2 linked regions of the Homo sapiens genome follow. The protein of the gene in region 2 purifies or fractionates together with the protein of the main gene of each other region. This does not show direct contact. Each region holds a gene or a part of one and is shown on either strand. Other genes may lie near its edges. The genes, in order: ASAP1 and ADD3.

The links.
Region 1: the proteins of ADD3 (region 2) and ASAP1 fractionate together in Homo sapiens (co-fractionation; one large-scale study listed by BioGRID). This does not show direct contact.

Annotation. Positions count from the first base shown.
Region 1 is NC_000008.11:130,055,374-130,059,193, forward strand, and holds part of ASAP1 (arf-GAP with SH3 domain, ANK repeat and PH domain-containing protein 1), read right to left. Parts: intron 2,704-3,820; coding exon 2,581-2,703; intron 1-2,580. UniProt on the Homo sapiens protein: Possesses phosphatidylinositol 4,5-bisphosphate-dependent GTPase-activating protein activity for ARF1 (ADP ribosylation factor 1) and ARF5 and a lesser activity towards ARF6.
Region 2 is NC_000010.11:110,126,387-110,130,206, reverse strand, and holds part of ADD3 (gamma-adducin), read right to left. Parts: intron 3,791-3,820; coding exon 3,704-3,790; intron 1-3,703. UniProt on the Homo sapiens protein: Membrane-cytoskeleton-associated protein that promotes the assembly of the spectrin-actin network. Plays a role in actin filament capping. Binds to calmodulin.

The sequences.
Region 1 (3,820 bases), on a different chromosome or scaffold from region 2:
GGGAAGGAAGGGGTTTCTTTGCCCACAGCCCAGGTAGGATGCATACAGACCATTAAGCTGTGTCAGCTGCCTGGCAAGACCCACTGCGGGGTACCATACTCAAATCAAAGCTAATCTTGTTCTGTCTCTTCTCTTTGTGAGTAAAGTGTTGTTCTAGCCAGTAAAAAAAAAAAAAAAAGGCTGCTATGTACTATCACTTGTTTTCTGGTTACCGTGGAGGAAGAATACTGTGAAAGTTTGAGACTGATGGTGGCGAATGGCAATTTTATTGTCTGCTGCATTGGCCTGTAAGCCAGTTACCTGTAAAAATTTTCTAATTACCTCAATTAGATTAGTATTGATTGCACTAAAGAGAATCATGTAATGGGCCTTCAATAGAAAAAACAAAATCGTGCATATTGGCTTCCAATGCCAAATCGATAGAGAGGAAGGTGGTTTTAAGAGTGGAACAGAGTCAACCAGGCCTGCCCAGCTCTCCTGAAGGCTTGCCCACCCACCGCGTGTGGTCTTAGTTGGCATCATGCATGTGTGAGGTCTTTGTGAATTTCACATCACAGTTAGCATGTGTGTGTGGCACCATCTTTACATCTGGCGAGGCACGTAATGGTGGCACACACAATGTCCCCTAGGAATGATGCTAGGGACACCAATGACAGCTTCCCATTCCCCGCAGGTATCTCTGCTGTAGTCATCAGTTGCTTAGCAAAGAACATGATCACTGCTTGATTATAATAATATTAACAGATTACAAAGTGAGTTCCTCAACATCCTTGTGAGAAACGATTAATCATGTCCTATTTTTCAGAGGAAAGTGAGGCTTACAGAAGGGACATGCTTTATCCAAGGCCCATAGAGCTAGTAACTGATTCACGTGGGGGGGCTTCAGAGCCCACCTCCTCGTCATGAGATGAAGTGGACTCTCTGACAGGCTTCATGCCAGGGGCTGGCCCCACTCTGCTGACAGAGGCTGGAGGTACCCCTGGGCCTCCCCAGGCTGATCCCTTCAGTCCAGTTTCTCAACCATGGTGCTACTGGCATCCTTGCTTGTGGGGGCTCCCTGAGTACTGGAGGATGTTTAGTGGCATCCCTGGCCACTAAACTTCCATCTACTAGTTGTTGGTAGCAACCCCCTTCCTAGGTCCTGACAATCAATATTTCCAGATATTGTAAATGTCCCTGGAGGGCAAAATTGCCCCAGTTGAGTCCAAACAAAATCCCTACAGCTGTGATTAAGAATCTGAGGTCACTGTCTAGGCCTGAAGGAAGAAAAGTCAAAGGTGAATGTGTGCCCATGCCTATGTGTGTGTGCACACATGTATATACATATGTATTTCTGGGTATTCTTAGGTACTGCTGGCTCAACTGCGAGCCTCAGGTCCCTTCCTGGCAGACAGAACTGAGTCCCTCTTGGCAGGACGGGGCTCAGGCTGCCAAGGAAGGGGAATTTTCACCCTGATGTCAGGAAATGATCAACAAGGAGAGCAGAAGAGGTGGCTTATTCACTGTACCTTGGCCTGGCAGTTCCCATCGGGAGACTTACTCCCTGGCAACGTGAAAACCAATAGATGTGTGGACTGCCCTCGCAGGTCACTCACAGCCTGGGTACCTAGCAGGGCCTATGAGGATGCTGATGTCTTTCCCTCCTGATGCCTGAGCTGCAGGTTTTAATGTAAAAGGAGTTTTCATAGATATTTTCATTTAATCTTTTCCTAAAATTACGTGGAGAAGGTGTCTTGGCCTATTTGACAAAGAAAGAACTGCAGACTGGATTAAGAATTGAGTCTGAGGACTTGTCAACTGCTCAGCCTGAGCAGGAACTTGGGCATTCTGATTCCCAGCCTGGGGACAGTGTGGAATGGTGAGCAAAGCACATAGGCTCTGGGGTCAGGGCCGATCTGGAATCTTGACTTAGCCTGCTTACTGGCTGAGGGACCACAGGCAACATGCTCAACTTTCTTCCGCTTTAGTATTTATATGAAAAATCAGAAAATGCCTACAACTCACAAGGTTACATGATACCATGGGTAAAGTACATACAAATGTTAATTCTCTTGACCTGTCTTCAAAGCCCCATGGCTGTTTTTCTTTTTTTTCAGATGGAGTCTCGCTCTGTTGCCCAGGCTGGAGTGTAGTGGTGTGATCTCATCTCACTGCAACCTGTGCCTCCCGGGTTCAAGCGATTCTCCTGCCTTGGCCTCCCGAGTAGCTGGGACTACAGGTGCGTGCCACCATGCCCAGTTAATTTTTTGTATTTTTAGTAGACACGGGGTTTCACCATGCTGGCCAGGCTGGTCTCGAACTCCCGACCTCGAGATCCATCCGCCTCAGCCTCCCAAAGTGCTGGGATTACAGGCGTGAGCCACTGTGCCCGGCCAGCTCCACGGCTGTTTTTCTAGCATGTAATAGTGTGTGACATAGAAAAGACACCAAATGCAATGGCTGTTGGGTGAGTGATGCAGCTGACAGGGTCCTTGTGCTCAAGAGCCCTCTTTTACTGCACTGTCTGTAGGCTCCAATGTGGTGCCTGCCCAGGCATGCTGTATGAATGTACGGATGAAGTGGATGGATATTCGTACGTACCCACCACTCCTGGTCCTCTTCCCCTGTGACGATAATCACTTCTCCCTCGATGAATGTGAGCTCGTCATCGTTGTCTGCCTGGCAGTCATAAATGGTCTTCACTCGCCTCACTTTATTTTTCCCCTTAAAGAAAGAAACTGGGTTTTAATTGAAAGAATGGACTGAATGGAAAAAAAGAGCAGCGGTTCTTTGTAAAATGGTTGACCTTGGCCAGTAACTTAACCTCGCTGAGCCTTGATTTCCTCACCCTTGAAGGGCGGGAAGAAGAGTGTCTGTCAGGCACCCAGCATACTGTGTACTCTTAACTACAGGCCCTTCCTCTCCCCCCATCATCAGGGTGGCCCTGCATTGGTGATTGGGCATCATCAAGTTATTTTCACCAGAAAGCAAACACTATGGGTAGGGATCAAAATTGAGCTTCACCAAAAACCATCAAGCACTCTGTACGCACCCCCAACCCACATCAGCTTGCAGAATGACAGCAGAGTCTAAAAATGTTTTTAGGAAACATGATGTAAAGCAAAATCTGCAGCTTCTGCATAATGAATGTGCAGCATAAACAAATTTGTCAGTCCCCTCATGCAAAACAGCAAGTCAGTACATGCTGGTTAAACACAGCAGGATCGGCCTGGGGCTCGGAGAAGTCTATGCAGTTCCTAAAACAGTTTTAATTTTTGATTAGTTTTGATTTGAGCATTTATTTGTTGAACTTCCAGTTCTTTGCAAATAGAAAAGTGAAAATAGAGGTATCACCTTCTAAATGATGGGTTTTTGTTTTGCACCTGGCTAATTGGCAATTTTAAAAAAAGCAAGCTGTCTCTTTAAATGTTTTGGGTGGAGTGCCTCTTCCTCTCTGTCCCCTGGTTTCTCCTTTAATCACCCTGATAGTTCCAGCTGCTTTCCGAGCTCCCTTCTGGGCCGTGCGGGTGGGTTGGAGAAGCCTGGCAGAACTGTGGCAGTGACTGCGTGAGCAACTGAGAGGCCTGTAGTGTGTTAATTTATAACACAGAGATTAAATGACATAATAAAACTATATAGTGTGTAGCATGAAATGAAAATTTTGCATCAGTGGTGCTTGGGAGTCATGGGAGAGTTCCCTTTTGAATAGCAGAAGTATCCACCATCAGACACGGCAGCCTCCAACCTACAGGAAGATGGGTTTTATTTTTCTTAATTTAAGTATTGATATGACACACTTTTACTGCAACATTTAAATTTTTTTTTTTTTTGAGACGGGGTT
Region 2 (3,820 bases):
AATGCTCTTGTAAGATTGATGCCCTTAAACTACTAATCCAATGGACTAAAATTGCCAGTGATATTTCCTCAATAAGCCTGTATAAGTAAATCTTAATAATTTTTAAAAACCATTATGCCAAGTTCTAATAAGTTTCACATAAAAAAAACTTGAAAAAAACAAGAATTGCTCCATTTTAAAGACCACTGTAAAAAAGGCTTACAGAAATGAAACTGTACCAAAAGTAGTTCTTTAAATCTGTTACGAAAATAAGCTTGTAGCTGTTTTCTCCAGGAAAGGAAATAATGAGAATTTCAGTTGCAGTTGGCATATGGAACCCATGTATTTATTTTTCATCCCTCCCAAAACCCCACTAAAATGATAGTAAAGGAATAGAAAAAAACAAAACAAAACACCCTTAAGGACAAAAGAATGTGAGATGAAACAACAAAGGATGAGAAATGTTAACATATTTTTGGAAGCTGGAATGCAAGTGGAACAGCAGGTAGCAGAGCTGAGAAAGTTGAAGCCTCAGTCCTGAAAAAAAGGATGCAAATGAGAAGCATGCTTATTTGCCCTGAAGAGGTCTGGTAAGGCCCATAAACTAGAGGCAATAGGTACCATAGAAGGTGGTGGTAAGGAAAAGGTGAAAATAGAGGAACATGTTCAAAGTCTGAATAGGAAACAGATTCCCAGGTTCCCTTCCCTATTCCACAGAGCCAAGCATTTCCCTCTCTCTCATCTCTGCAGAAGATCAGAGGCTTGAGAAAGAAAAACTAGGCTGGGCGCGGTGGCTCACACCTGTAATCCCAGCACTTTGGAAGGCCAAGGCGAGCAGATCACCTGAGGTCCAGAGTTCGAGACTAGCCTGACCAACATGGAGAAACCCTGCCTCTACTAAAAATACAAAATTAGCCGGGCATGGTGGTGCATGCCTGTAATCCCAGCTACTCAGGAGGCTGAGGCAGGAGAATGGCTTGAACCCGGGAGGCGGAGGTTGCCGTGAGCTGAGGTCACGCCATTGCGCTCCAGCCTGGGCAACAAGAACAAAACTCCGTCTCAAAAAAAAAAAAAAAAGAAAGAAAGAAAGAAAGAAAAACTAACTAGGGGACACAAAATACAGTTGCAGGCTCCTAGAATGATGGTTGGAAACTGGCAGGAGACTGGAGTTCTTTTCCAGATAAACTAAATAGTCCCAGATAAAAGAATTACAGAGAATAATGTTTGGGGATTCCCCAGAGAAACAACCTGGTCCACATCCAATCACCCTACAGTGAAGCCCACCAATCCCCGAGCTCTGTGTATACCCAGAGCTTCTGATATGCTTTAATGTCTCATTCTTCCATATAAACAGACATACGGAACAACTCAGAATAGACAAAGACAACAAAGGCAAATGAAGAAAATTTAAAATTGATACCCTTAGAGCAATAAGAGAAAGTGTAAAGATCAGGATGTTATTAAAAAGGAACATTCAGGGAATAAGAACTCTTATTAAAAATAAAAAAGTTGGCTGGGCGTGGTGGCTCACGCCTGTAATCCCAGCACTTTGGGAGGCCAAGGCGGGCAGATCACGAGGTCAGGAGATTGAAACCATCCTGGCTAACGCGGTGAAACCCTGTCTCTACTAAAAATACAAAAAAAATTAGTCGGGCACGGTGACAGGCGCCTGTAGTCCCAGCTACTTGGGAGGCTGAGGCAGAGAATGGCGTGCACCCAGGAAGGCGGAGCTTGCAGTGAGCCAAGATCGCGCCACTGCACTCTAGCCTGGGCAACAGTGCGAGACTCCATCTCAAAAAAAATAAATAAAATAAAATAAATTAAAAAAGTTAACATCAAAATAAAAAATTAAAAGGGTTAGAAAACATTCTCCCAGAAAGTAGGATACAAAGATAAAGAGATGGCAAGTAGGAGAGAAAAGAAAAAAATCAGAGGCTCAAAGAGGCCCAACATCCAAACTAACATAATATACTGACAGAAAAAGAAATGGGAAGAAAACACTCTTGAAGAAACACTTTTAAAAAACTTCCAGAACTGAAGGATATGACTCTGGAGATTGAAAAGGGTTACTAATTACTTAGAAAAAAGACTAAAAAGAGATCAGCACACAATCATAAAATTTCAGAACAGCAGGGATGCAGAAAGGGTCTAAAAGCAAAAAAAAAAAAAAAAAAAAAATCCTAAACAAAGGTTCAGGAATTCCAATGCCTTCCTACTTCAACAATAAAATAGGGAACAGAATGATGCTTTTCTTATTTCAGGGGAAAATTATTTCTAAACTATTCTATATCCATTATATGCACATTTGAAGATAGAATAAAGGCATTTCAGACTGTTACCACCTATGTATCCTTTTCTCGGAAAGCTATTAGAGGGTGCGTTCTACAGTAAAGGAGGAAATCAAGAAAGCAGAAGACACAAGATACAGGAAACGGAATACAATATAGATCAGCAGCACAGGAATCCTCCAGATGAACCTGTGCAGCTGGCCTGAGAGCAACCAATTTAGATTTGGATCAGAATGAAGGGGGGCTGGAACAGAGAGATTACCTGTTGACTTTCACCCTGTGGAAAATAATATTAGGACAGATTTTATGTTATTCTTATTTTTTGAGACGGAGTCTCGCTCTGTCACCAGGCTGGAGTACAGTGGCATGATCTTGGCTCACTGCAACCTCTGCCTCCCGGGTTCGAGTGATTCTCCTGCCTCAGCCTCCTGAGTAGCTGGGACTACAGGTGCACGCCACCACGCACAGCTAATTTTTGTATTTTCAGTAGAGATGGGGTTTCACCATGTTGGCCAGGATGGTCTTGATCTCTTGACCTCGTGATCTGCCCGCCTCGGCCTCCCAAAGTGCTGGGATTACAGGCGTGAGCCACTGCACCCAGCCGGGACTTTATAATTCTTTTAAAAAGTTCGGGAAGAACTAAGCCAATGTACCCCAAATAATAAGCCAATGAAAAAAAGGCAAGGTGAGAGTAGGGAGGGGTGACTTATGTAAGAAAGGAAATACTACCTGGCTTAGCAGCAAACATGTAGTAATATAAATAACGAAAGCTGATCTAACAGAAAAAAACAAAAAACAAAAAACAAAAACTGTGATGTATCCTTACTGGGAGAATGGGGAGAGGGAAAAAGGGAAGCACTGTATAAACAGGCTAAATCCCCATCTTTCAAAAATATTTCATTAATTCTAAGATGAACTTTTTCCATCTCTGAAATTGGGAACAATTATAATTGGCAGTGTTTTTTCTCTTTTAGTGACATATAAAACAATGGTACTTCTTATAACGGATAACACAGATTTGATGAAAAATAGTCAAGGTCTAAAACTGATAGACCAAGAAAAAGCAGAAGATGCTCTTTAGAAACATCAAAGGAGGACGAGGAGCAGTGGTTTATACCTGTAATCCCAATACTTCAGGAGGTCAAGGCTGGAGGATCACCTGAGATCAGGTGTTCACGACTATCCTGGGCAACAGAGTGAGACCTCATCTCAACTAACTAACCAGAAACACCAAAGTAAACATTAGAAGCAATGAAAAGAACAGAAAGTTGCTGCACCTGGAAACTGGGAATTGTGGGTGACATTTTAAATCTTGTGAGTTGACTTTTTAACTTGTGCTTATATTAACCTTAGTAAAAATAAATATTCATATTTAAAAATCAATGAAATTAATGTGGTAAATAAAAAACAAAGATCATACTACTTCATAAACTTACAGAAGGTGGCTTATCCACAACAATTCCAGCAAGCAACTGAGATTGTGGTCCTGCTGTTTTCAAGTCATATCGATTTTGTTCCCGAATCTGAATTGAAAAACAATTCAATATAAAGTT